Linked DNA regions of Homo sapiens. Changing the gene in region 2 together with the main gene of any one other region gives a genetic interaction. Each region holds a gene or a part of one and is shown on either strand. Other genes may lie near its edges.

Region 1 (4,494 bases), on a different chromosome or scaffold from region 2:
AGTTCTGAGGGAACCTAATATTAAAACTGGAATTCCTGGCCAGGTGCGGTGGCTCATGCCTGTAATCCCAGCACTTTGGGAGGCAGGGGCTGGTGGATCACCTGAGGTCAGGAGTTCAAGATCAGCTTGGCCAACATGGTGAAACTCCGTCTCTACTAAAACTACAAAAATTAGCCGGGCGTGGTGGCGCGCCTGTAGTCCCAGCTACTCGGGAGGCTGAGGCAGGAGAACGGCTTGAACCCGGGAAGTGGAGGCTGCAGTGAGCCGATATCACACCACTGCACTCCTGCCTGGGTGACAGAGCTAGACTCCGTCTCAAAGAAGAAGAAAAAAAAAACACCTCGAATTCCATGCCTAGCTAATGATCATTCACGTGTATAAGGGTAGAATGGAGCTATTTTGGGTCCTACAATGACTCGGAAATCTCACATCCCACACAGCATTTCTTAAGAATTAAGAATAAGGAGGCCAAGGCAGGCGGATCAGAAGGTCAGGAGATCGAGACCATCCTGGCTAACACGGTGAAACCCCGTCTCTACTAAAAGTACAAAAAAATTAGCCAGGCGTGGTGGCGGGCGCCTGTAGTCCCAGCTACTTAGGAGGCTGAGGCAGGAGAATGGCGTGAACCCCGAAGGCGGAGCTTGCAGTGAGCCGAGATTGATTGAGCCACTGCACTCCAGCCTGGGAGACAGAGCGAGGCTCCGTCTCAAAAAAAAAAAAAAAAGAATTAAGAATAAAAACTAAGAAAACGATTTAAAGGAAGAAAGATGGGCCGGGCGCCGTGGCTCACACCTGTAATCCTAGCACAAGGGAGGCCCAGGGAGGCGGATCACGTGTGGTCAGGACAGAGACCAGCATAGCCAACATGGCAAAACCCCGTCTCTACTAAAAATCCAAAAAAAAAAAAAAAAAAAAAAAGGCCACGTATGGTGGCTCATGCCTGTAGTCTCAGCACTGTGGAGGCTGAGGCAGGCGGATCACCTGAGGTCAGGAGTTCGAGACCAGCCTGACCAACATGGCAAAACTCCGTCTCTACTAAAAAAAAATCAGCTGGGCGTGGCGGCGCACACCTGTAGTCCTAGCTGCTCTGGACGCTGTGGCAGAAGAATGGCTTGAACCCAGGAGGCCAGAGGTTGTAGTGAGCCGAGATCATGCCACCGTACTCCAGCCTAAGAGACATAGCGAGACTCCGTCTCTAAATAAATAAACAAATGAAGTAAGATGATGATCCAGAAAACAGTACCTCCCACTGAAGAAAGATATGATAGCAATAATAATAATAAAATCCCAGATGCAGCTTTCCAGCAAGCCTACAGAATAGCCAGGTGTGACAGCAACAAAAATAAATAAGACCCCAAGAAGGACTATTCAAGAAGAAAGATGACTCTTGATAGACTACCTGGTAAAATAGAGTCCGGGCGCGGCAAGATGTAAAGTGGAAAAAGAAAGACAGCCCCAGGGAAAAAGACAAAAGCAGCACAAAAAACAAAATCACAGTACATAACCTGAATCTACACAGTGTCAATAGTCAACTATCCTATCTGATTTTTCAGCATTTTAAATCTGTATAGTCAAAGCCCTGATCATTTAATTTTGGATGCCCACAACGCAAAAGTACAGCTGACAAACTTGAGGTGAAAGGGAAGAAAAGCTAAGATCGACCTTAGAAAGCATTGAGTCAAGGGATACGTTACACAGGCGATGGAATGAAAAAGGCAAATTACTTAGTTATAAAGCTTACCAATAAAAATATATATCTAGTGATTTACTCCATTAAGAGTATAGAGGGAGGGCTGAATAGGTGACTAAATCCTCTCCTATTCCAGCTAGAATTCAACAGATCTAAAAGTGATAACGTATAAGTATGATACTTAGAGACAGAACCAAAACAGTTAAAGGTGGAGAAATGGGATGAGAAGGGGTAGAGCAAGAACTGTTGCTTTTTGTTTAACCCACGTGCAAGTAAAGTTCAATAAAGTTCGATTAAAATTTTACAAAGGAAACAAGTATTCAATTTAGCAGTTGCTTTTTGAAAAAAACAAGAAATAGTGGGAATGTCACTAAGACAAGGCTTTTGGTTCCTCCTTGGATAGAAGCCAAGAAAGTTAAAAAAAAAAAAAAAAGCAGAAATAAGTTCACAGTGACAGGCAAGCACTGCCTTCAAAAACTAAGGAGTGAGGTACGCGTGATGTGCCTCTGAACGTTTCCAATCCAGAAATTCTAATTAAGAGCACAAAATCGAATCCGCATGGAATGACGAAAACAATAAAAACAAAACTCAATAATGGCCAAAAATCTACTTACGTATTAACTAACAACAAAAATTGTACTGCTCAAGTACATCCAGTAATCTTGAAATTTTCAACAAGCACCCACCCCGTTCAGTAGTCAGGGCACACAGAGAAGGGTAACTTCTCAGAATTCTATAGCGCTCATCCTGGACCTGACATACTGCTTTCAGCGTCCAATCTAACCAGAACAACAAATGGTCCTGAACACTAGGAGAAAACCTTTCCGGCACAATTGGTAAACAACGAAAAGGTCGCCGCCAGGGATTCCTTTACAAGGTTGTCAAAAAGCTGGCCTCCGAATCCGTGCATCCATAACCCGCTAGCTCAGCTGACCTGGCATGCATTGCTCAACAACAGCCTCTGAACCTCTTCCGAGACCCAAAATGCGCGGTCTGGAGAGGAAACAAAGCAGTGGGCGGGGCCTTCCGGTGCCGGGAAAAAGCGAGTAGGGGAGGAGCGACCCTCCTGCGAGTTCGGAACCCTATAGGCCCTTGCCCCGCCGAGGGTCCTGAATTCCTCGCCCCCGGGGTGCTGAATCCCACAGCCCGCGTCCCATCGCGTGTGGGGCTGCGACTGCTCGCGAGGCTGGCAGCAGGGCGCGAGCTCCGGCAAGGCTCCCCGGGGGCAGGCGGCGGAGCCCATGGGCCGCGGCCTAGACGTGCCGGGGGCCCGGGCTCGAGTGTGGCGGCCGCCTGGCGCCTCCTCACCTTCTCTTCCACGCAGTTGACTATGATGGACGGGTACTTGCGGCTGAGCCAGCGGAAGAACGCCGGGACTCCCATAGCGGCACACGGCTGGAGGCGGCGGCCGACCGGCTGACGAGCGTAACCAAAGAGACGGGAGCAGCGGCAGAGGGCACCAGCACTTCCTCCCACGTGCGCGCTGGAGAACGGAAGTGACGTCACGGCGCCGCCGCCGGGGAAGCTGGGAAGGAGGCTTCGCTGGATGAGGGAGCGGCGGAAAAGGGCCTTGCCGGGCTGTTTGTGGGAGGCGGAGTCCGGCGGCGGACCGGGTGGCGAAGGCTGCAGCTCGCCCTCGGTGGTCCCAGCCCCGGAGCGCGAGGCCGAGCGCGTCTGAGTTGCGGGGGCTCACGGGCGACTGCTCTGCCGGGGCTCCGCCGGGATCTCCCAGCCCCAGCCCTCCGGCTCCCTGGGCACAGAATCGCTGCGCTCTGCATGCCCGGGAGGAGGTCTCCCTTGCCCGTTTGGTCACCTCTTGTTTGGAAGAAAATGTCTTTTTTTGCCTCTATGCTCACCCGTCTCAATCTAGGGTAGAATCGAAGCATCCAAACTTACTCGTTACTTCCATTTCCTGGTTTCTCCTAGTTTTGTGCTGCAGTACGTACCTGGACTATCAAAAGGAGCATTTTAAAGCATTTTACAGTAATAATGGCTGCTTTGCACCAATAATTTGATTGTTATGCAAATAAATAATTATGATAGTTACCGAATGGAATCTAGCCGGTATTTAGCATCCAATACAATCTTCCAGCTACAATTACGGGTATAAAATAGTTGCTAATATGATTTTCCAGCATTTACTGAGCCTTTACAGTGTACCAAGACATTGACTAAGGGATTGTCCTATGTAATCTTCACTTGAACCTTGTGAGGGTACTGTTAGCACCCTCGTGTAAATGATAAGAAAGCCAAGTTACAGAGGAGTTAAGTCACTTATGCACATAGCTTCTGTTTCAGTTCAAGCAAAGGTCATTTTTAATCCATCCTTGTTCTAACACGATACTTTTATCTTTTGTTTTCTGGTGGTCCCAAACGAATTTTTTCCATATGAAAGGAGAGGTCTGGAAGAGGAGGTATATTTGTCCGTTTGCTCAAGCCTGGAAGTCTCCCTGAATCCCCTCTTGGTTTGACACACATCACACACGATGCTAAATGCTCACCTCATGAGGCCTCTGTGAAAGTATTTCGCCGAGTTACCTCACAGGCAGTATTTATTGCCCCCTCCTCTGTGGTCTGATGACTACTTTGTTTAAACTACTAGTGTGGAAATTAGAGAAATAGTCATCCCGTGTTTTACTTAAGGATAGCCAAAACTATTCCAAAGTATTATGTCTATGGTGAAATTCCTCCTTTTACCTGGAAGCAGCCCCTCTGGTTTCCCTGGGAGGTGCTGTTATAGGAACATGTACACCATAGGCAGTTCAGGGATAGACAGCTGGCCAAGTTGAGCCATTTAGAATCCT
Region 2 (3,906 bases):
TGCTACATATTGTCAGCATACTGCCAGCTTTACTGTGGTAGAAAATAAATCTAATGATGATGATAACAATAATAGTAACATACATTTCTTGACTGCCCTGTTTGCATGTTTCAGGCACTGATTCTAAGTGTTTATGTGTACAATTCAAGAAATTATCACAATAGCTTTTTCAGATAAGTACTATAATTCTCATTTTGCAGATGAAGCAACAGAATCATAGATAAAATTAAGTAATTTGGCCAAGTTCTCACAGCTAATAAGTAGAGGAGCCTGGATTTAAATCCATGGACTCTGACTCCGTAAGTCTGTATCAAATATGTAAGTGTCACAAGGGAAAGATAAGGTTCTTAAAACCTCCATCAAGCAGTCAGATGTTCAGGAAATGATAACACTCCTTGGGAGTTGAACTAAATCTTTTGGATACAAAAATCTGATTTTAGGCAGTATCTTAGAATTTTGCAGGTAAAAATGACAGGTCACAGAGAAAGGTTTTAATTTGTACAGTGCTACCATCACATATGTGAAGCCATTTGTGTTTTTTTAATGCTGTTGTAGATAAGGAAGAAAGTGAAGAGTTGTCCAAGGTCACACAGCTCCTAGGTGATCTTCCTGATATCCTTGTTTGTTGTACTTAACAACCTAGGATTTCTTTGAGTCCAGAAGCATTCACTGAGCTGACATTTCATTGATGCCCTGAATCAGATTCAGCTAGAAACCACATGCACAGACAGCCGAAGTGTTTGAAGGAAAATCTGTCAATTAGTTAATAAGGTGGGAACTGAGTTTCAAAGAAAAAATTCTAAATGTTCTAAGCTGTTTGGTGAGCCAGTTTAGAATGCCTTTATACCCTTTTAATCTTTGTGTTGAGAATAAACTTGCCCTTTCTAACAGAAGTCAGCAGTTCATGTTGTCATATATCAGCCATACTGAGAAATCAGGGGTTGGTAGAGTTTTAAAAAGCATTAAAACAGCAACTGTATTATTTTGAAAATAAGCCAAAGGATTAACTTAATCTGTTGCCCAGAAACACAAGTGAAAGAGAAACACAAGTGAAAGACATTTTTTAATCTTTTGCCATATCATATAGCAAACTAGAAGAAAACTGAACTTGGGAGGGAAATAGGCCAGCCACTCAACCTTCCAGCAATTATTAGGAAATTAAACAAGAACTCTTAAAGTAAATGTCCTGCTATTTTCTCATTGAAAGGGGAAAGTCTGTTGCTCTCATGGAGGTTTACATTTTAATGCTCTTTCACTCATTTTAGATATTGCTTGGATGACCGAAAAGCTTTGGAAAGAGATGGAGGATTTTCTGAACTTCAGTCTCGTCTTATTCGTTATGAAACTCAAACTACCTGCACCAGAGAAAGTTTTCCAGTACCTACTGTGTTGAGCCCTCTTCCATCTCCTGTAGTTTCGTCAGATCCTGGAAGTGTCCCTGACGGAGAAGTTTTACAAAATGAACTTCGAACTGAAGTATCCCGATTGAAACGGAGATCTAAAGATCTGAATTGCCTTTATCCCAGAAAAAGGTGATATATTACATGCACATAAATAGTATATTGACAGAAAGTATTTTAGTCTCGAGGATTTTTATTTTATTTTATATTAGTCTTTCAGGTTAATTTCTTCATGGCAAGAAGTTTGTTTTATGAGCTGTTGATAATTTTGCTTATAAGTTATAAAAATAAATGATTTGGGAAAAAAACACAGTTTCTTGCTTTATATGCTAATATACAGTCCATTAGCACAATGGATTGTAAAGTTTTTAAGCCATGGAACAGTGGAGATTTCACCCCATAGATTAAGCTGCTGAGCTGCCCTGTTGAAGAGACTGTTTGGGGATGGGAGTTCTCCCATTAGCTCTTCCTTTCCTTTCCCCTCAGTTTCCTGCCTGCATTGTTCCCTTGAGCAAGAGATTCCATGAGGTACCATTTTTAAAACACCTGTTACATATAAAATATAGCTTTAAACACTGCATAATGATAGAATATATGAAACTTTTCTGGATGCGTTAGTTTGCTAACTAAATGAAATATCCAGATACTTGATCAGAAGTTAGAAGTTTATGTAGTGAACACTAATTTTTATTGAATTTATGTTATCTTTAGAACCTTTGTCAAACTTAGGTTCTTGGCATCTAAAGCAAGGCTTGAATTCTTATTGTATTTAAACCTTGCAAAAAGTATGAACTATATGAAAACATAACTTTCAGATCTTTTTTTGAATAGTTAAGAAAGTTAGAATAAGGTTACCCTGATATGGAAGAACTCAGTCATTTTTATGAGGACTTTATAAATTCATGGTACTTTTTATACCTGATAAAATTAAAAAGCAGCAGTTACATTTGGGGTACTATATTTATAGCCATATTTCTTATTTCTGACCTATGGCTAATAAAAATATATGTGTTCCTAAAAGGAATGTATACTGTGGCTTCTGGGTCAGCAGAATTGAGGGCTATAAGACCCTATCTTGTAAAGGGAAAAATTTGGGCCTTGTCAGGAACAAATGTAAACATTTTAGGAAGATTGAAGTATGAACCAGTTTTATAGTTTATTTGTATTTGTTTTAACACTATGACTTATTTTGCAAGGGAGTTCCATGGGTATAAAAAGATACAGGTTGTGGTGTTTCTGTTCAAATTATCTTAACAGAAAAGTATAAATATTTAACAGATTAGTATTAAATCTATAAATAGCAGCACTCTTGGCATGCATAGCTGATTTATTTGAGAAATTGTAAATTGGAGGGATGGGAGAGAGTATAACAATATTGTTTGTTGCTTTCTCTATTAGCCAAAATCCTAGTTTGCTATTCATTACCTTCTATGTGTTAGTTACTCATCTGAAGAACTAAGGAACAACTTTATAATATGATGTTTATTGCTTACTTAAGGCAGTAATAGCAATAAATTTTGTTTGCTTTTCTTGAATTTATGTTATAATGGATATAGTGGTAACACTATAACATAGTGGTATAGTGTTATATATTATGTAATATATTATGTTATATATTATCTATTATGTAATAACAGTGGTATAATATAGTGGTAACACACTGGTAAGACAGAAAATGAACTTCGATGTTGATTCACTTAATGGATATAGTTGTAATATTTAAGACAGAAAATGAACTTCGATGTTGATTCGCTTAATCTACGTTCTTGATTTTTTTCCCCTGCTATATAGACTTGTGAAATCTGAAAGTTCAGAGTCTCTTCTTTCTCAGACAACTGGTAATAGTAATCACTATCATCATCATGTGACATCCAGAAAGCCACAAACAGAACGGTCCTTACCAGTGACTTGTCCATTGGTTCCAATTCCTAGCTGTGAAACTCCAAAACTTGCTACAAAGACCAGTTCAGGTCAAAAAAGTATGCATGAATCAAAAACATCAAGGCAAATTAAGGAATCAAGATCACAGAAACACACACGGGTAAAGATTTATTTCCCATTTTTCTTAGTTCTACATAGGAAGACTTTTTAAATTTGATTACTTTAAAATATATGTCTAAAAAATTTTATGAATGAAATGAAACGATGTCTAGAATTTACTGGTGTAAGAAGGATGATAGGAAAGTAGGTGGGGATATAATTGAAACAAGATTAGCCACAGATTAATCATACTTGAAGCTGGTTAAAAGATATATCAAGATAGAAATTTGTTATAAAATATTCTGTGCGTGTCAAATATTCTCTACTTTTCTATGCTTGAAATTTCCCATAATAAAAAATAAATATACACTTACATATCCCTGCTGTGTGTAACTTTAACACTCAGATTTCAATTCAGAACTCATGATTTGAGTTCCTTTCTTAAGACACTGTAGTCATTTCCTGCTAACATATTATTCCTGTGACACTTCTGACCATGTAAATGTTAGATCTTTTTTTTCTCAAT
Region 3 (3,906 bases), on a different chromosome or scaffold from region 2:
GGGGGCAAGAGTGATGAACAGAGTAGAGGGTGGGGCTGGGGACAGGAAGGCACCACAGAGTGGGTGGCGGGGACAGTAAACAAAGCAGGGACCCAGGCCTGCAGTGTTCAGTGACTGTGAACAGCCAGCGCAGCCAGCATGTGAAGGTGGCTGTGTCACGGAGGCCTGAGACTGCCAGGCCAGGGGGCCTGGGTCACAGCTTCTTGATTTTTTTTTTTTTTTTTTTGAGACGGAGTCTCACTCTGTCGTACTCGATCTCAGCTCACTGCAACCTCCGTCTCCTGGGTTCAAGTGATTCTCCTGTCTCAGCCTCCCAAGTAGCTGGGACTACAGGCGTGCGCCACCACGCCTGGCTAATTTTTATATTTTTAATAAACACGTGGTTTCACCACATTAGCCAGGGTGGTCTTGAACTCCTGACTTCATGATCCACCTGCCTCAGCCTCCCAAAGTGCTGAGATTACAGGCGTGAGCCAACGCGCCCAGCCGATTTTTTTTTTTTTCCTAAAATAATTGGTAGGAGCCAGGCACAGTGGCTCACACCTGTAATCTTTGGGAGGCTGAGGTGGGAGGATCACTTGAAGCCAGGAGTTCAAGACCAGCCTGGGCAACATAGTGAGACCCCCGTCTCTACAAAAAAAAATTAAAAAATAAGACAGTCATGGTGGCATGTGCCTGGAGTCCCAGCTAATTGGGAGGCTGTGGCAGGAGGATCAGTTGAGCCCAGGAGGTCAAGATTACAGTGAGCCGTGATCACGCCATTGCACTCCAGCCTGGACAACATAGCAAGACCTTGTCTCTAAAAAAATAAGAATGGGGGCTGGGCCCGGTGGTTCACGCCTGTAATCCCAGCACTTTGGGAGGCCAAGGCGGGCAGATCACCTGAGGTCAGGAGTTCGAGACCAGCCTCAACATGGAGAAACCCTGTCTCTACTAAAAATACAGAATTAGCCAGGTGTGGTGGTGCATGCCTGTAATCCCAGCTACTTGGGAGGCTGAGGCAGGAGAATTACTTGAACCTGGGAGGCAGAGGTTTCGGTGAGCTGAGGTCACAGCATTACACTCCAGCCTGGGCACCAAGAGCGAAACTCCATCTCAAAAAAAAAAAAAAAAGGCCGGGCGTGGTGGCTCACACCTGTAATCCCAGCATTTTGGGAGGCCAAGGTGGGTGGATCACAAGGTCAGGAGATTGAGACCATCCTGGCTAACACAGTGAAACCCCGTCTCTACTAAAAATACAAAAAAATTAGCCGGGCGTGGTGGCGGGCGCCTGTAGTCTCAGCTACTCGGGAGGCTGAGGCAGGAGAATGGTGTGAACCTGGGAGGTGGAGCTTGCAGTGAGCCGAGATCACGCCACTGCACTCCAGCCTGGGCGACAGAGCGAGACTCCGTCTCGAAAAAAAAAAAAATGGGGAAGGAACCATCTAGGAGGGAACACAATGAGGGACGGGCCCCCAGCTGCAGATGTGACAGTGGTATCAGTCTGGGCATCCTCAGAGGGCCAGTAGGTGGGCAGGGCTGGCTGGGGGCATGTCCTGCTTTATAGAAGCGCATGTCACAACCCCCATAACTGCTGCTGCCCTGCCCCCAGGTGACACGCCCTTCACCTCACCACCAGAGGTGGACAGCTGCCAGGGGATAGACAGTAACCTACCAGGGTCCCTAGCTCAAGGCATGGGCAGTGTGGCCCTGCAGATGAGGGCACACCTGGCTGCTCACGACAGGTGACGCCATGCCACCCTCCACAGTGTACTGCAGTGGAGGTGGCCCATGCTGGGCTGAGGGGTCCCTGGTGGGGCAGGGACTTCCTGTCTGGGGCTCTCCCTGCCAAGCTGAAGACATGGAAATCCTCTGGGGTGGACGGGTGCAGCTGACGCCTCGTCCCTACTGCAGAGGAAGTTCGGTGTGGTCCTGGATGAGATCAAGCCCTCCTCGGCCCCTGAGCTCCAGGCCGTGCGCATGTTTGCTGACTACCTCGCCCACGAGAGTCGGAGGTGAGGCCCCAGAGAATGGGTTGGCCTGAGGCGCGGGGCCATCTTCAAGGCCTGTTGGTTATGAACCTGGGTGGGTGGGGGCATGGCGTGCAGCGCACAGCATCCCTCAGATTAGGCGCCTCTCCCCTCTGCTCCCCTGCTGCTTTGTGCCTCAGTTTCCCTCACCTGCACAGCAGTGGGGGGCTGGTGATGGATCCTGCTTCAAAGGGGAGGGTCAGAGACAGTGCTGTGTGTGCACACGCCCTCATGGACCACAAGGCACTCTCTGAACCTAGAACTGAAAATATCAATTACCGAGCAGCCCTCTGCAACACCCAGAGCCCCAAGACAGCCCAGGGCGCAGCGGGGGCAGGGCCCTCCCATCAGTTTTCTTATTTATTTATTTAGAGATGGAGTCTCACTCTGTCACCAGGCTGGAGTTGCAGTGGTGAGATCTCGGCTCACTGCAACCTCTGCCTCCTGGGTTCAAGTGATTCTTGTGCCTCAGCCTCCTGAGTAGCTACGACTATAGCTGCGTGCCACCACGTCCAGCTAATTTTTGTATTTTAGCAGAGACTGGGTTTCACCGTGTTGCCCAGGGTGGTCTCGAACTCCTGAGCTCAGGCGGTCTGCCCACCTCAGCCTCCCAAATCCTATCAGTTTTCTAGTCCCAGCTAGTTGGGGACTGCAACCTGCCAGTATCTCCCCTGGAGCCCAGTGGGAGGGTGGGTGAGGCCACGCCTGTCCTGCCCCTGAGCCACAGGCCAGCGTTGGTCAAACGCCCATGGGCGGCAGCCAAGGGGAGAGGGGGCTGGGCTGTGGGGACCCAGGAACCTTGCCCCCTCCTGCTGTGGGGTCGGAGTGAGGGTCTGGCATGGGGAGACTGCTGTGATCCTGCTCTTCCTTGGCCCACGGAGGCAGTGTCCCAACTACCGCCTCCCTTCACTCAAAGAAACCTGGGGTTCCTGGGAGCTGACTCCTGTGCAGAGGCAGCATGGTGGGGTGAATGGTGTCCCCCAAAAGGTACGTCCATATCCTATCCCACATGCTTGTGAATATGATATCATTTGGAAAAAGGGTCTTTGCCGATCAGATTAAGAGATAAGGAGATGAAGACATGCTGGATTTAGGGTGGGCCCCAAAGCCAAGGACTTGTGTCCTTTTAAGAGATAAAAGGAGGGCTGGGTGCAGTGGCTCATACTTGTAATCCCAGCACTTTGGGAGGACGAGGTGGGCAGATCACCTGAGGTCAGGAGTTTTCAAGACCAGCCTGGCCAACGTGGTGAAACCCCATTTCTATTAAAAATACAGAATTAACAGGATGTGATGTCTGTGATTCCAGCTACTTGGGAGGCTGAGGCAGGAGAATCGCTTGAACCTGGCAGGCAGAGGTTGCAGTGAGCCAAGATCGCACTAGTGCACTCCAGCCTGGGTGACAGCGGGAGACTGTCTTAAAAAAAAAAAAAAAAAAAGGAAAGAGGCCCACAGAGTTAAGCCCATGTGACAACAGACTGGAGTGACATGTCTGCTAGCCAAGGAGCACCACGAGTGGCCAGCAGCCACCAGAGCTGGGAGAGAGGCCTGGGACGGCCTTGCCCTCCAGCCTCCAGCTGGAGCCAGCCCTGCCGCCACCTTGACTTCAGACTTACGGCCTCCAGAGCTGTGAGGAACGAATCCCTGTTGTCCTTAACTGCCCGGGCTGTGGTGCTTTGCCACAGCAGCTCCAGGACATTGAGACAGGTGACCTCCCAGGGCCACTGTTTCTCCCACCCTGCACTTACTTCACCAGCTGGAGTGAAGGCAGGGAACCCTGGGTCCCCCAGGAGCAGCAGCTGCTGTGAGCATCACAGAAAAGCAGCCCCGGAGAGCAGGCGGTCCAGGCAGGGGCTTGTGGTCCGTTCATCTGGCTGCACAGCCGCGACCTCATTGGCAG
Region 4 (3,906 bases), on a different chromosome or scaffold from region 2:
CAAAATTATACATCTTAAATGCTTAAATGTTACAACCTTTACGTCAACCCTTTCAATCTTCTACCAAATATAACATCTCTCTCGTCAGAACCCCTACAGTACTTTACTTTTACTTATGTTATAGTGATTATGTATTCTCGCTAACAGTGCTAAACAGTGACCTTTGCATAGTATATGCACTAAAGCTTACTTACTCAATGAAATAAACAACATTAGTAAGGCTGGATGCAGTTGCTCTTGCCTGTAATCCCAGCACTTTGGGAGGCCAAGGTGGAAGGAGAGTTTGAGCCCAGGAGTTTGAGACCAGCCTGGGCTACATAGCAAAACCCATCTCTACAAAATAGAAATTAGGTGTGGTGGCACACACCTGTAGTCCCAATTACTCAGGAGGCTGAGGCAGGAGGACTGCTTGAGCCCAGGAGAATGAGGCAGCAGTGAGCCATGACTGCACCACTGCACTCTAGCCTGAGTGATAATATTACAATGCTGTGATACATATTTATAAACACATATGCTGAAGGAATTAAAAATAGCACTATCTTGTTTAAGAAAGACTTTTTAAAAACAATTTATTTTGAGACAAAGTCTTGGTCAGCCACCCAGGCTGCAGTGCAGTGGCACGATCACGGCTGACTGCAGCCTCAACCTCTCGGGCTGAAGCAATCCTTCCACCTCAGCCCCTTGATAGGTGACACTACAGGCACGGACCACCACGCCTAATTTTTGTATTTTTTGTAGAGATGGGGTTTTGCCATGTTGCCCGGGCTGAACTCCTGGGCTCAACTGATCTGCTGGCCTTGCCTCCCAAAATGTTAAGATTACAGGCATTAGCCAATGTACCTGGCCCACCAAAGGACTTTCACATACACTTTTCTTATGTATCTTAACTAGCAATGAACTGCTTCTCTAAGAAACTTGATTATTAAAGCTGCGAACTGCTTAAGCAAACAAACTTTATGACCGAAGCAGTACAAGAAGTAGTTCATAATCTCCACTGAATAGTAAGCTACATCTGCTGGAAAACTACCTAAGTAAACACTTCCTGCTAATCAGATAGACCTGAAACTGATTTTGGAGGGTGGCAGGGAAGCCGCCACTGAAGTTTTAACAGCATCTGCAGTGAAAGGCAGGAATTTAGTTGCAGTGGGGATATTTAGAATTTGCCACACGGCACTTGAAAAAGCTAGTCTAGTTTTTGGTGCAAACTGCTTTAACATTAGGAAATAAACCATACAGGGTTAACAGATTGCTATTTTGATCTTAGTCTTTATATGAAAAACAAAGATGACGGCATTCCATCTAATGGTTAGATAATAAACCATTTTTTTTGGTTAGTTACTCTTGGGTACTGTCAGTTCAGAATGAAGTGAACTAACTTTCTGCCACCCAAAAGTGAATTAATGTAAAGCTATTTGCAGAGTTTGGTTTTCACATAACCAAAACTTCTCATTCAGCTATGAAAGAATGACAACTATGTCATGTGGAGGACCTAATTAGTCCACTATCTGTACAGATCACTTCTCTATTTCATTTCCTCAATTTATCTAAGGCTGGGGATGATGGCTCATGCCTGTATTCCTAATACTTTGGGAGGCTGAGGTGGGAGGATTGCTTGAGGCCAGAAGGTCAACACCAGCCTGGGCAACATAGTGAAACCTGGTCTTTACGAAAAATTAAAAAAAAAATAACCAAAAAAAAAAAAAAAGCCAGGCATGGTTGTTGCATGCCTGTAGTCCCAGCTACTCTGGAGGCTGAAGCAGGTGTAAAGCGCAGGACGTCAAGGTTGCAGTGAACTATAATCGCACCACCGTACCCCAGCCTGGGTGACAGCGAGACTCTGTCTCTTAAAAAAAAAAAAAAAGTCTATTACATCATTTCCTATTTTTGAGAGTTGGGGCCAAAAGAGAGAACAGTTGATGCTACTTCTGTCATCCAATTGCTGATGCTTTTCTCTGAGTTTATATTGTTCAGAAGGAAAAAGCAAATGAGAAAGCTGACCACTGGCAAGTGGAAATTACATTCCAGAATATTCTTGAAGAGAAAAATAATTCAAAGTTTCTGAGTTATTCCTACTGCCCAATTTTCTGACTCTCTTTTCACTTCTTACCATGAAGAAGGCACCCCGGTGATAATACTTCTGTAAGAACTTGTATTTGCCCTTAACAGCTTTGTTGGTAATGACTTTGCCGTTTGCCCGAAGTTCAGCTCTCCTCTCTTCCTCAGTCAGGTTTCGCATGCGTTCAATTTCTGCTTTCTCCTTCTCAAGCCTGTCCAGGGAGCAAAACAATTTATTGGTACTGTTACAGCTTCAGAAAGACCAAATTATCTGAAAATAACAGTCCCATGTCATTTCAAGTATTAGTCACCTTCTTTAATTCTAGTCATTGCCTATTAGGAATCAAGATAAGGAGCTCAATAAACAAATGGGTGAGTTAGTCTTCATTATGTTTGCTAGACTAGGTATTGCCAACTTTCAAAAGTTGATTCTAGCCCTTCTGACGTTCAGACATACTATTACTGCTGGGTTTTCCAACATTACAAATTCTCTTTCCCTAAAAGGTCTTCTTAGCTTTAAAAAAAAAAAAAAATCAGTGAATTTAAAATAAGTGTCTGAGGCTTTGCTGGTATTCCTTTATGTAAGTGTATCATAATCATATAGGTGCTTGCATGTCATAAACCAAAGATTACCATCATTAATTAGATTGCAGTAACTTTTTTTTTTTTTTTTCTTTTTGGTGAGATGGAGTCTTGCTCTGTCGCCCAGGCTGGAGTGCAGTGGTGTGATCTTGGCTCACTGCAAGCTCCGCCTCCTGGGTTCATGCCATTCTCCTGCCTCAGCCTCCCGATTAGCTGGGACTACAGGTGCCCGCCACCATGCCCAGCTAATCTTTTTGAATTTTTAGTAGAGACGGGGTTTCACCGTGTTAGCCAGGATGGTCTCAATCTCCTGACCTCGTGATCCGCCCGCCTTGGCCTTCCAAAGTGTTGGGATTATAGGCGTGAGCCACTGCGCCCAGCCAGATTGCAGTAACTTTTTAGCCAGTGTTGGGGAGAGGGAGTGATATCCCTTGTCTCCAAATAAAATGCATACATACACACAATTTTGTGTACAATTTTATATTTTTTTGAGATGGAATCTTGCTCTGTTGCCCAGGCTGGAGTGCAGTGGCATGATCTTGGCTCACTGCAACCTCTGCCTCCCAGGTTCAAGCTATTCTCCTGCTTCAGCCTCCTGAGTAGCTGGGATTACAGGTGTGTGCCACCATGCCCGACTAATTTTTGTATTTTTAGTACAGACAGGGTTTCACCATGTTGGACAGGCGGGTGTCAAACTCCTGACCTTGTGAGCCGCCCACCTCGGCCTCCCAAATTGTTGGGATTACAGGCGTGAGCCACCACGCCCGGCCTTGTGTACAATTTTAAAGGGCACTTAGACTCCTACTCCTACAGGTCCAGGATAAAAATCTTAGAAACTACAGGCTGAGGGCCAGGCGTGGTGGCTCATGCCTGTAATCCCAGCACTTTGGGAGGCCGAGGTGGGTGGATCACCTGAAGTCAGGAGTTCAAGGCCAGCCTGGCCGACATGGTGAAAACCCACCTCTACTAAAAATACAAAAATTAGCTGGGCGTGGTGGCATATACCTGTAGTCCCAGCTACGCAGGAGGCTGAGGCAGGAGAACCGCTTGACTCCCAGGGGGTGGAGGTTGTAGTGAGCCAAGATTGCGCCACTGCACTCCAGCCTGGGCGACAGAGTGAGACTGTGTCTCAAAAAAAAAAAAAAAACCAAAAACAAAAAATTACAGGCTGAGTATGGAGTTATCTACTGTGTGTAGCTCATACTCAGGCAAGTTTTCTTTTTTTCTTTTTTTTTTTTTTCCAGATAGAGTCTCACTCTGTCACCTAGG
Region 5 (3,906 bases), on a different chromosome or scaffold from region 2:
ACTTGGAGTGAGTCATTTTACTTCTGGCTTCATTTTCATCTATGATATTAGATATTTAGATTTGACTAGATAATCTCTAGAATCCTTTTTAGCTCAGGTTTTAGAATTCTGGCTTATTTTAGCAGTAATAAGAGCAGTTATCATTGATTGATTGCTTACTGTATGTTAAGTTTGTTATAAATGTTTTACATGAGGTACTCATTTGACCCTTACTACAACGCTATGAGGTAACTATGATTATAGACTCATGCCAGGAATTTTATTCCTTAAAATAACCTTGTGAATAAAGGTACCATTGTCTAATTTTACAAGTGAGGAAATTGAGACTTAGAAAGTTGTTACTTTCTGAGATCAATCACTTAATATGTGGTAGAGCCAGGATTCAAGATTTATGCATTGACACTTTATGATGTAAACTTTAGCCCTTTGTTAGTTTACTGTTCAATGGGAGTCAAGATAATAGTTTTGGATTTAAATCCTAGCTCCACTACTTAACTAGTAATGTGGCCTAGAGTTAGTTATTTTGTGTCTGAGTTTGTTTCCTTTTCTGTAAGGTGAAGAAAATATCTAACTCTGTAGAATAAAGTTCCAGAAGGAAATTATTCCATTATGTTGTGTTTTGGAGGTGCTGTGATATATACAGCACTTTACACAGTGGTAGAGTGAGCTATTGCTCACTTATCTTTCTAGACTGTTTAAAGGCTTGTGTTGGGATCAGAAGGGTTAAAGAATTTGATGAAGTATCTTCTAGTCGTAGGAGTCTCTATTTTCTTAACATCATTCTAGAGTCCACTTATTGCTGAGAATCTCCTTTTACCTTATTTATTGCCCTGATATAGCTATCGCATATAATTCTTATTGTAAATTGCCTTGATTTCTTTTGGGAAAAAGGCATTGTAGTAGTGTTTATATTCTTTTTTACTCTACCCAAAGTGTATCTTTATATAACGACCTTTAGAAGATGTAGAGTTTAAATTTAGCTACCTTGATTTTGGATCCCTTTGGCCTGTAATTGTTACATCTCATTATAAATTAGAAATGCCATGAGGTAACTTAGTACATAATTGTAATTTATTCAACATTTTGTTGATTTTATTTGGGCATTTTTCCAAAGCAGAAGTAGAGATGGAGAGCAGGTAAAACTTCATAGATTGCTACCTAGAAATTAGGCATCTTTTTTGATAAAAGAATGGGGCCATTTTTTTCTTTTCTTTGCTGAGTGCCCTCTGTCATTTCTATCATGGTCTCTCTTTTAGACTAATGGCAATTCCAATGGCCTTGTACCGATGCTGAGAGTATATAACAACACAGCTCGATATGTGGATCAAGGTGGGAACAAGGTATGCTCCATGAATTGAAAGTACTGGAAATCAGAACTAAAGGTGATTTAGTCATATACACTTAAGATGGTTCATTTATGTGTAGTTTCTAATTACCTTTTTTTTACTTGTAAAATCAATTTGAGGAGGTATAATTATTTTAATATGCATATACTTTAAATGTACAGTTTGATGGGTTTTGACAAATGTATACACTTGTGTAATCACCACATTGATAAAGAGGTAGAACATTTCCATTACCCCAAAATCTTTTCTCCCTCATATACCTTTACATTCAGTCACCCCTGTCACCCCTACCCACACATACTTTATCCCTGGCTCTAGACAGCCACTGATCTATTCAGCTTTCTTACATGATAGTTCGTTTGCAAAGAATTTCTCAAGTTGTAATTCATATAAATTTGTTACTTGAAATGGGGTTGTAACATGTGCTCTAGGTTTTTCTTTCGTTTTTTTTTTTATCTCTCTCTTATCACCCAGGCTGGAGTGCAATGGTGCGATCTTGGCTCACCGTAGCCTTGACCTCCTGGACTTAAGTGATTCTTCTGCCTCAGCCCTCCCATGTAGCTCAGACTATAGGCCTGTGCCACCACACCCAGCTAATTTTTATATTTTTTGTAGAGGCGGGGGTCTCACTTTCTTGCCTAGGCTGATCTCAAACTCCTAGGCTCAAGCAATCTACCTGCCTTGGCCTCCCAAAGTGTTGGGATTATGGGTGTTAGCCACTGCACCTCGCCTAGGTTGTTCTTAAAACAAAAACAAAAACTACCTGGAATAACAAAACTCTCCCTAATTGGCTGGATGCAGTGGCTCCTGCCAGTAATCCCAGCACTTTGGGAGGCTGAGGTGGGCTGATCGTGTAAGCTCACAAGTTCAAGACCACGAGTTCAAGCTCACGAGTTCAACATGACGCAACCCCATCTCCACAAAAAATACAAAAATTAACCGGGTGTGGTGGCGAACGCCTGTAGTTTCAGCTTCTCTGGAGGCTGAGGTGGGAGGATGGCTTGAGCCCGGTAGGCAGGAGGTTGCAGTGAGCCGAGATTATACCACTGCACTCCAGCCTGGGCGGTAGAGCTAGAACTTGTCTCAAACAAAACAGAACAAACAAACAAAAACTCTCCCTAATTGATAGAAGAAACAGTAAAGTTGAGAGAATTGGGTTGTTTACCTTATTTTATCAACAGGATGGTTTACAACTAGAGTCTGCCTTTTGTGACTGTAGGCACACTAATCGCTTGTTGGTTTATGAATTTCTCTCTGATGGACTTTGGGGACCTTGATAAGACAGATCAACTTTTTGACCTACAATAAGAGCATGGCTTATACTGTCAAAGCAACTTCCTTTGGGCTTTATGTACATGTCATGTGGTGTAAAGAGAGCTGGGCTGTTGCTGAAGAGGAGGCTCCATCTGTAGTTCATCATGTCACTTTAGAAAAGTTAATCTTGTTTCACATTTTGTTTATATCATTCGTTCGTTTTTACTCATAGAATTGTAAAATATTACTTTTACAATTATATATGGAAAACTTACACTTTTATAATACTTTTATTTATGTTATTTAATTCATTGTAGTGAAAATCAAAGGAGATACTATAAAAGTGCTTTGGGAGACATGATGTTTCTTTGTTTCATTTTTATTCTGAAGAGAATTATGATTTATTTACCACTAGCGTCCTGGGGCATTTGCTATTTACCTGGAGCCTTGGCATTTAGACATCTTTGAATTCCTTGATTTAAAGAAGAACACAGGAAAGGAAGAGCAGCGTGCCAGAGATCTTTTCTTTGCTCTTTGGATTCCGGATCTCTTCATGAAACGAGTGGAGACTAATCAGGTGAGAGATAGGTACTTGTTGGTAATAGCAACTTGATTCACATGAGCTTTCTCTTTTTTAGTCATCTTAAGTCATGCTTAGGAAGAGCCCATATGTGTGTGATGCCACAGAAGGCATTCTGAACAAGTTAAGAGATGCCGTGCTTGTCTTCTTATATTTCTATTCTCTAAAGTAGATGCTTTGTGACCTAAATGCTTAAAAGGTCATGTATAAACAGGCAGACCTAGATGTTTGGGCCTGAACCTGAAAATGATTATTTCTACAGCAAATTTCCAAGAGAGCTTGTAAAAGTCACCTTATGCTTGCAGTGTTTCTAATGGATTATGGTTGGCTATTTGAAGTTTCTTATGAGTGATTTTGTCCTTTCCTTTTTAGGACTGGTCTTTGATGTGTCCAAATGAGTGTCCTGGTCTGGATGAGGTTTGGGGAGAGGAATTTGAGAAACTATATGCAAGGTATGGGAAAAATATGAAAGAAAACAATAATGTTTTAATCATGGTTTCTCTTATTTCAGGGGTCCAAATATCAAAAGTACTTGTCAAGAATCTTTTGAAGCATCTAAGAGAAAAAGTGACTAATAATTTTGGTCAGATTTGCTTCCTGACTCTTCACCAAAATTGAGTTGTGTCTTCTTCTTTCTTAAAACTTTGGAATGTATAAATAGGTTCTTGGGATTTTTAATTGATCCTTTTAAAATTTAAGATGACTAGTAGGGTTATTATTTTGCTC
Region 6 (3,906 bases), on a different chromosome or scaffold from region 2:
TTTTTTGTTATTTTTGCATTGTTTTGCCATGAATAAGTATCTAAGTAAGTTAGAACTTGTCTTTCCTAAATTTGCAGATGCACACTTAACATGAAAAAATAGAATTAGGTGTAGGGTAATTTATCTCATACCAAAAATTCAATCTCAATGACTATCGTATTCACTGGTATCCTTTGTTTAAATATTTTAAAGTAATAAAAGCAAGAAACCTAAGTGCTTTAAACTTCTCTGCAGAAATGTAATGATTCCCTTTTGCTACAACCAATAGAATTCTTACTGAACAATCTGGAGTAGAAGTAATAAAAAGAACAATTATGTATTCCCATTAAGAGAATCTTAAATTTTATTATGTGTCATTTTGTGCAGATCTGAAAGTAATCATGCCCAATCATTTTCTGGTTGAATGTTTATGAGTCTGTGTACTAATGTTTCTCTATAATATCTCCTTAATGTCCTCATTTAGGCTTCATTAACTCTACGCATTTCTCTGGCTGTTTTTAGGCTGTTTTCCAGTTGAATCTCTTTTATTTTGGTTTTTTTGTTTGTTTGTTTTGTTTTGTTTGAGATGGAGTTTCTCTCTTATTGCCCAGGCTAGAGTGCAATGGCGCGATCTCAGCTCACTGCAACCTCCACCACCTGGGTTCAAGTGATTCTCCTGCCTCAGCCTCGAGAGTAGCTGGAATTACAGGCATGTGCCACCACGCCCGGCCAATTTTGTATCTTTAATAGAGACAGGGTTTCTCCATGTTGACCAGGCTGGTCTTGAACCCCTGACCTCAGGTGATCCACCTGAGCCCAGCCTTGAATCTCTTTTAAAGCATCCAAAATGTGTTCATTGTACTAAGAGTTAAAGATAGGAGGGCCGGATGTGGTGGCTCATGCCTGTAATCCCAGCACTTTGGGAGGCCGAGGCAGGTGGATCACGAGGTCAGGAGTTCAAGGCCAGCCAGGCCAAGATGCTGAAACCCCGTCTCTACTAAAAATACTAAAATTAGCTGGGCTTGGTGGCACCCGCCTGTAATCCCAGCTACTTGGTAGGCTGAGGCAGGAGAATCACTTGAACCCAGGTGGCAGCGGTTGCAGTAAGCTGAGGTGGCACCACTGTACTCCAGCCTGGGTGACAGAGCAAGACTCCATCTCCAAAAAAAAAGTTAGGAGTTGAAAATGACCCTCTTGTTCTCAAAGGGGAAAAAAAAAACTCAGGATTTTTTCCTTCAATCTGCGTGCTGTTGCATAGTTCTTTCTTTCCACTGATTCACTAAGGGAGATCCACTGTGATCTTATTATCTAGAATTTGTTAAAGGTAGGTTTCTCTCATTTTATAGGTAAGAGAATGGAGACCCAGACAGATAAGATCATACATCAGTGATTCAGTAAAAATATAAATAACTCATAGTTTAAGTGAGGCTCTTCGAGGTTGACATGGCCCTTCTTTTTAATTTTGCAGGGATAAACACACTTGTTACCTATGATATGGTTCCAGAGCCCAAAATCATTGATGCTGCTTTGCGGGCATGCAGACGGTTAAATGATTTTGCTAGTACAGTTCGTATCCTAGAGGTTGTTAAGGTCAGTGAAATAATAATGCTAAAATTGTTCTGTAAATGAGTGGGCTATTGCTGAGGTATCAGAATATTCTGTATTTTTGAATTTGTTAAAATGCCTAAAATGAGTCCTTATATAACTAGAAGGAATGTACATTGCAGTTAAAATCTTTCTAGAGGCTACTTTGGCAGCATTTATTCAAGGCCTTACAAATTGTACATGATACACTTTTGTTCAGCAATTCCATTTAAGAATTTATCTTTTTTCTTTTTTCTCTCTTTTTTTTTTTTCTTTCTTTTTTAAGAATTTATCTTGGCCGTGTGTGATGGCTCATGCCTGTAATCCCAGCACTTTAGGAGGCTAAGGCGGGTGGATCATGCAATGTCAGGAGTTTGAGACCAGCCTGGCCAACATGGTGAAACCCTGTCTCTACTAAAAATATAAAAATTAGGCCAGGCGCGGTGGCTCACGCCTGTAATCCCAGCTCTTTGGGAGGCCGAGGCGGGCGGATCACGAGGTCAGGAGATCGAAACCATCCTGGCTAACACGGTGAAACCCTGTCTCTACTAAAAATACAAAAAAATTAGCCGGGTGTGGTGGCAGGCGCCTGTAGTCCCAGCTACTCAGGAGGCTGAGGCGGGAGAATGGCGTGAACCCGGGAGGCAAAGCTTGCAGTGAGCCAAGACAGCGCCACTGCACTCCAGCCTGGGTGACAGAGCAAGACTCTGTCTCAAAAAAAAAAAAAAAAAAAAAAAAATTAGCTGGGCATGGTGGCACATGCCTGTAATCCCAGCTACTTGGGAGGCCCAGGCAGGAGAATTGCTTGAACCCGGGAGGCGGAGGTAGCAGTGAGCTGAGATCGCACCATTGCACTCCAGCCTGGGCAACAAGAGAGAAACTCCGTCTCTAAAAAAAAAAAGAAAGGAATTTATCAAGGAAATAATAAAGGATATATAAAGATTTAACTACAAAGTGTATTCATCTTCTTGCTATTTGTCATACGAAATGTTAGGAATTCTTAAGAGGGAGCTTCCCAGAACTGGTTATACTACACAACTGTTGATACTGTAGAAATGTGTTTGACTTTAAACATATTTGTGTCGGCTGGGCACGGTGGCTCACGCCTGTAATCCCAGCACTTTGGGAGACTGAGGCAGGTGGATCACCTGAGGTCAAGAGTTCGAGACCAGCCTGACCAAGATGGAGAAACCCCATCTCTACTGAAAATAAAAAATTAGCCGGGCGTGGGGGTGCATGCCTGTAATCCCAGCTAGTCGGGAGGCTGAGGCAGGGGAATTGCTTGAACCCGGGAGGCAGAGGTTACAGTGAGCCAAGATGGCACCATTGCACTCCAGCCTGGGCAACAAGAGAGAGAAACTCCATCTCAAAAAATATATATATACATTATATGAAAACATAGGAGGATATATACTAATTTTCCTCCTTCTTATTTGGTCATAATTTCTGAGTTTATTTATTTTTTCGAGACAGAGTCTCACTCTGTCGCCCAAGCTGGAGTGCAATCATTGCGTGATCTCAGCTCACTGCAACCTCCGAGGTCTCCTGGGTTCAAGCAATTCTTCTGCCTCAGCCTCCCGAGTAGCTGGGATTACAGGCTAATTTTGTATTTTAAGAGACGGGGTTTCTCCATGTTGGTCAGGCTGATCTCAAACTCCTGACCTCAGTTGATCCGCCCGCCTCAGCCTCCCAAAGTGCTGGGATTACAGGCGTGAGCCACCACGCCCGGCCGGCACTTTCTTAGTTCTTTTGACTTCTTATTCGTTCCTAAGGAACCTTGTGACAGCACAGGTGTAACTATATATTACAGTGAAAAGTCTCCAGCCCTGGACATATGTATTCTCAAAGTACAGCTCTCCATGAAAAGATACTGTGGTCTGTAAGAAAGAAACTTAAGGTCCGTTAACAGCAAAAGTGTGACATTACTTTATCTATAATGGGTAAGATAATTAAGGGTTCTGTAGGCTATCAATCCATTCAGCACTGGTAGTTAATTCAGTTAAGGTCTCAAATTGGAGGCAAATGAAAAAACTTTTCCCGTTAACTTAATTATTCGTGTTGCCTGCTGGGCATGTCTAATTGCCTTCACAAAATTCTGTCATCACTACCTTCTTTTCCAGTAATTCTAGACTTTAAGATGTTCTGGATTTAGTCCAATTGCAGTTATTCTCAAGGTATTTCAAAAGCCTACCTTGAACAGTACATATATAAGTTGCCCTCTTTATTTTTATTTAATTATTATTATTTTTTTGAGACAGAGTCTCGCTCTGTCCCCTAGGCTGGAGTGTAGTGTCATGATCTCAGCTCACTGCAACCTCCGCCTCCCTAGTTCAAGCATTCCCG
Region 7 (3,906 bases), on a different chromosome or scaffold from region 2:
GCGTGTCCGTGGCTGCATCCTAACTCTGGTGGAACGAATGGATGAAGAATTTACCAAAATAATGCAAAATACTGACCCTCACTCCCAAGGTGAGCCTGAGCAAGCGTGGGCTTTGCTGAGAGGAAAATTGTGGGGAATATTACTAGGTTTAGAGCTTTGTGAGGATTATACTAAGTCAGAGTGCTTGAAAAGCCAGCCTTTCAACTTACCTAGCGTTCACACGGAAGGGCCTGATGAGATGCTGGCTCCCAGTCCCATCGTTTCTGATTCCATAGGTCTGAGTGGGGCTTGAGAACCTGCACCTCTAGCCTGCTCCCAGGTTGCTGGTCTCAGGGCTATACTTTGAGAACCTTTGGGGTAAGGCATCTATTCACTTCTCTTGTTTAGCTTGGATGAGAGGCATTGGGGTGTGAAAGTGCAGCATAGTTTACTCAGTAAAAGTGTGAATGTGCCCATCAAGTCAAGGGTGTAGTGATTAACAAGGCAGCCAAAAGCTTACCTTTTGTGCTGGATGGAGAAAGGCAGATTGAAAAATAATAGTAGTAAGATATGGCCGGGCGTGGTGGCTCACGTCTGTAATTCCAGCTCTTTGGGAGGCCGAAGCAGGCGGATCCCGAGGTCAGGAGATTGAGACCATCCTGGCTAACACGGTGAAACCCCATCTCTACTAAAAATACACACACACACACAAAAAAAATTAGGCGTGGTGCTGGGCGCCTATAGTCCCAGCTACTTGGGAGGCTGAGGCAGGAGAATGGCATGAACCCAGGAGGCGGAACTTGCAGTGAGCCGAGATCACACCCCTGCACTCCAGCCTGGGCGACAGAGCAAGACTCCATCTCAAAAAAAAAAAAAAATAGTATGATGTTAAGATAATTCTGGGCCAGGTGCAGTGGCTCACGCCTGTAATCCTAGCACTTTGGGAGGCCGAGGTGTGTGAATCACCTGAGGTCAGGAGTTTGAGACCAGCCTGGCCAACGTGGCAAAACCCTGGCTCTACTCAAATACAAAAATTAGCCAGGCATGGTGGCAGGTGCCTGTAAATCCCAGCTATGTGGGAGGCTGAGGCAGGAGAATCCCTTGAGCCCAGCGGGCCAGAGGTTGCAATGAGCTGAGATCACACCACTGCACTCCAGCCTGGGCGAAAGAGTGAAACTCCATCTCAAAAAATAATAATAATAATTCTAGATGATATAAAGTTCAGAGTTAAACTAGGGCCCTGTGGTAAGAAGTGGCTGGAGGGGTGGCTGCTGTAGCTAACAGCTGGAGAAAGCACCCTTAAGTAGGGACCACCTGAGGTGAGATCCAATGAGGAGGAGTTAGGGGAAGAATCAGCTGAAGACAGCGCCTGACAGGAGGAGCAGAGAGCGAGCTTGATGTTCCAGGAGTAAAAAGGCCAGTGGGACTCCAGCACAGGAAGCCAGAGGGAGAATCGTGGGAGACCAGGCAAGGGCCAGGCCTGGCAGACCCTTATTGGCAGAGGTTGGCAGTTGGGATTTTTTTCCTAAGCTGTGGGACTGGAAGGTTCTGGGTCCTGGGAGTGGGAGATGGCCTTTCTGGGGCACACTGACTAGACTTTTCTGACGGGTGCAGAAGAGGGACGGGTTGATTGGAATGAGTGGGGACAGATGGGAAAGCCTGGCTGCCCAGCTGAGACAAGGGTGGGTGCTCTCCCTGCCAGAGTACGTGGAGCACTTGAAGGATGAGGCCCAGGTGTGTGCCATCATCGAGCGTGTGCAGCGCTACCTGGAGGAGAAGGGCACTACCGAGGAGGTCTGCCGCATCTACCTGCTGCGCATCCTGCACACCTACTACAAGTTTGATTACAAGGCCCATCAGCGACAGCTGACCCCGCCTGAGGGCTCCTCAAAGGTGAGCACGTGGCAGTCATGGCAGAGGGGAATGGGTGTGTCCACCTGTCCTCCACTTCTGTCAGGACTTGACAGCAAATCTGTTACTCTCTAGACTTCCGCAGGTGGAGCAGGGAGGGAAACTGAGGTATTAGAATGAGACTGGATAGAGTCTCATCTTTAGTTGCTAGAGCCTGTGCCTTTTAAAGCTGGATCTCCTTTGCAAATAACCTCCCTTCCTCCCCAGTCTGAGCAAGACCAGGCAGAAAATGAGGGCGAGGACTCGGCTGTGTTGATGGAGAGACTGTGCAAGTACATCTACGCCAAGGACCGCACAGACCGGATCCGCACATGTGCCATCCTCTGCCACATCTACCACCATGCTCTGCACTCGCGCTGGTACCAGGCCCGCGACCTCATGCTCATGAGCCACTTGCAGGACAACATTCAGCATGCAGACCCGCCAGTGCAGGTAGGATGGGGAGGCCTTGGAGGTGAAGGAGTGCCAGGCCCCTGGCCTCTTGGCAAACTGGCTTAACCAGAACAGCCACCTGTCTGGCCGGTGCAAATTTAAGTAGACACTTGGTCTTTCCCAGTTGCCAGCATCCTGCAGTCCTCCTGCATGTAAACACATAATTTCGTGTCAAAAAAAAAAATTATCCAGGCTTGGTAGTGCTTGAGCCCAAGAGGCAGAGGTTCCAGTGAGCCGAGGTTGTGCCACTGCACTCCAGCCTGGGTAATGGAGCAAGACTGTTCAAAAAAAAAAAAAAGCTGTGTCTGGAAGTGTAGATCATGTAAAAGTATATTTGAGGCAACTAGGAAATGTTTATGTGTAGAGCACCTGGTGAACCTGTCTGGGGGTACTGCTGGTTTTTAAACAGCCCTCCTATTTGTGTTTCTATTCTATGGTATGAACATATCACTGTGTCTGTTTTCCTCTTGGCGGACACCCAGTTTATTTCCAGTTTTTGGCTCTAATGTATGAAGCTGCTGTGAACATTCTTGTAAGAAACTCAAAAGTGGTTATACCATTTTACACTCCTGTTAGTGTTTGGGAGTTCCTTGTCAACTTTTGGTGGTGTTGGTCTTTTTTTGAGAGGGAGTCTCGCTCTGTCGCCAAGGCTGGAGTGCAGTGGTGCAATCTTGGCTTACTGCAACTGCCACCTCCCAGGATCAAGCGATTCTACCTCAGCCTCCCGAGTAGCTGGGATTACAGGTGCCCGCCACCACTTCCGACTAATTTTTGTAATTTAGTAGAGATAGGGTTTCACCATGTTGGCCAGGCTGGTCTCAAACTCCTGACCTCAAGTGATCTGCCTGCCTCAGCCTCCCAAAGTGCTGAGATTACAGGAGTGAGCCATCATGCCGGCGGTGGTATTGGTCTTTTAAACTTTTTTTTGTTTTTGTTTTTTGAGGCAGGGTCTTGCACTGTCACCTAGACTGAGTGTAGTGGCATGATCATGGCCCGCAGTAGCCTCAAATTCCCAGGTTCAAGTGATCCTCCCACCTCAGCCTCCATAGTAGCTGGGACTACAGGCATGTGCCACCATAGCTGGGACTACAGGCATGTGCCACCATGCCTGGCTAATTTTTTATTTTTTGTAGAGACAGGGTCTCACTATGTTGCCCAGGCTGGTCTCAAAGATCTTTTAGGGGTGTGTGTGTGTCTCTTTTAGGGGGTGTGTGTGTATCTTTTAGGGGTTGTGTGTGTATCTTTTAGGGGGTGTGTGTGTGTGTATCTTTTAGGGGTGTGTGTGTGTGTGTGTGTGTGTGTGTTTTGAGACAGAGTCTCGCTCTGTTGCCCAGGCTGGAGTGCAGTGGTGCAATCTTGGCTCACTACAACCTCCATCTCCCAGGTTCAAGCCATTCTCCTCCCTCACCATCCCATGTAGCTGGGATTATAGGCACGTGCCACCACACCAGGCTAATTTTTGTATATTTAATAGAGACAAGATTTCACTATGTTGGCCAGGCTGGTCTTGAACCTCAGGTGACCCACCCACCTCAGCCTCCCAAAGTGCTGGGATTACAGGCATGAGCCACCGCAACCGGCCAC

Evidence for each region.
Region 1: changes in MTBP (region 2) and XRN2 together harm fitness more than expected from each alone (negative genetic interaction), as found in Homo sapiens cells (one large-scale study listed by BioGRID).
Region 3: changes in MTBP (region 2) and COPE together harm fitness less than expected from each alone (positive genetic interaction), as found in Homo sapiens cells (one large-scale study listed by BioGRID).
Region 4: changes in MTBP (region 2) and MFAP1 together harm fitness more than expected from each alone (negative genetic interaction), as found in Homo sapiens cells (one large-scale study listed by BioGRID).
Region 5: changes in MTBP (region 2) and RRM1 together harm fitness more than expected from each alone (negative genetic interaction), as found in Homo sapiens cells (one large-scale study listed by BioGRID).
Region 6: changes in MTBP (region 2) and COX5A together harm fitness more than expected from each alone (negative genetic interaction), as found in Homo sapiens cells (one large-scale study listed by BioGRID).
Region 7: changes in MTBP (region 2) and EIF3C together harm fitness more than expected from each alone (negative genetic interaction), as found in Homo sapiens cells (one large-scale study listed by BioGRID).

The regions. Positions count from the first base shown.
Region 1 is NC_000020.11:21,301,978-21,306,471, reverse strand, and holds the start of XRN2 (5'-3' exoribonuclease 2), read right to left. Parts: upstream 3,142-4,494; 5' UTR 3,074-3,141; coding exon 2,999-3,073; intron 2,975-2,998; exon of another isoform or gene 2,934-2,974; coding exon of another isoform or gene 2,625-2,933; intron 1-2,624. UniProt on the Homo sapiens protein: Possesses 5'->3' exoribonuclease activity. May promote the termination of transcription by RNA polymerase II.
Region 2 is NC_000008.11:120,514,660-120,518,565, forward strand, and holds part of MTBP (mdm2-binding protein), read left to right. Parts: intron 1-555; coding exon of another isoform or gene 556-559; exon of another isoform or gene 560-577; intron 578-643; exon of another isoform or gene 644-771; intron 772-1,265; coding exon 1,266-1,532; intron 1,533-3,191; coding exon 3,192-3,441; intron 3,442-3,906. UniProt on the Homo sapiens protein: Inhibits cell migration in vitro and suppresses the invasive behavior of tumor cells. May play a role in MDM2-dependent p53/TP53 homeostasis in unstressed cells. Inhibits autoubiquitination of MDM2, thereby enhancing MDM2 stability.
Region 3 is NC_000019.10:18,909,059-18,912,964, reverse strand, and holds part of COPE (coatomer subunit epsilon), read left to right. Parts: intron 1-1,893; coding exon 1,894-1,994; intron 1,995-3,906. UniProt on the Homo sapiens protein: The coatomer is a cytosolic protein complex that binds to dilysine motifs and reversibly associates with Golgi non-clathrin-coated vesicles, which further mediate biosynthetic protein transport from the ER, via the Golgi up to the trans Golgi network.
Region 4 is NC_000015.10:43,807,648-43,811,553, forward strand, and holds part of MFAP1 (microfibrillar-associated protein 1), read right to left. Parts: intron 2,268-3,906; coding exon 2,108-2,267; intron 1-2,107. UniProt on the Homo sapiens protein: Involved in pre-mRNA splicing as a component of the spliceosome.
Region 5 is NC_000011.10:4,118,589-4,122,494, forward strand, and holds part of RRM1 (ribonucleoside-diphosphate reductase large subunit), read left to right. Parts: intron 1-1,256; coding exon 1,257-1,340; exon of another isoform or gene 1,341-1,382; intron 1,383-3,015; coding exon 3,016-3,177; intron 3,178-3,552; coding exon 3,553-3,632; intron 3,633-3,906. UniProt on the Homo sapiens protein: Provides the precursors necessary for DNA synthesis. Catalyzes the biosynthesis of deoxyribonucleotides from the corresponding ribonucleotides.
Region 6 is NC_000015.10:74,924,429-74,928,334, reverse strand, and holds part of COX5A (cytochrome c oxidase subunit 5A, mitochondrial precursor), read left to right. Parts: intron 1-1,447; coding exon 1,448-1,569; intron 1,570-3,906. UniProt on the Homo sapiens protein: Component of the cytochrome c oxidase, the last enzyme in the mitochondrial electron transport chain which drives oxidative phosphorylation.
Region 7 is NC_000016.10:28,724,924-28,728,829, forward strand, and holds part of EIF3C (eukaryotic translation initiation factor 3 subunit C), read left to right. Parts: coding exon 1-89; intron 90-1,681; coding exon 1,682-1,872; intron 1,873-2,097; coding exon 2,098-2,322; intron 2,323-3,906. UniProt on the Homo sapiens protein: Component of the eukaryotic translation initiation factor 3 (eIF-3) complex, which is required for several steps in the initiation of protein synthesis.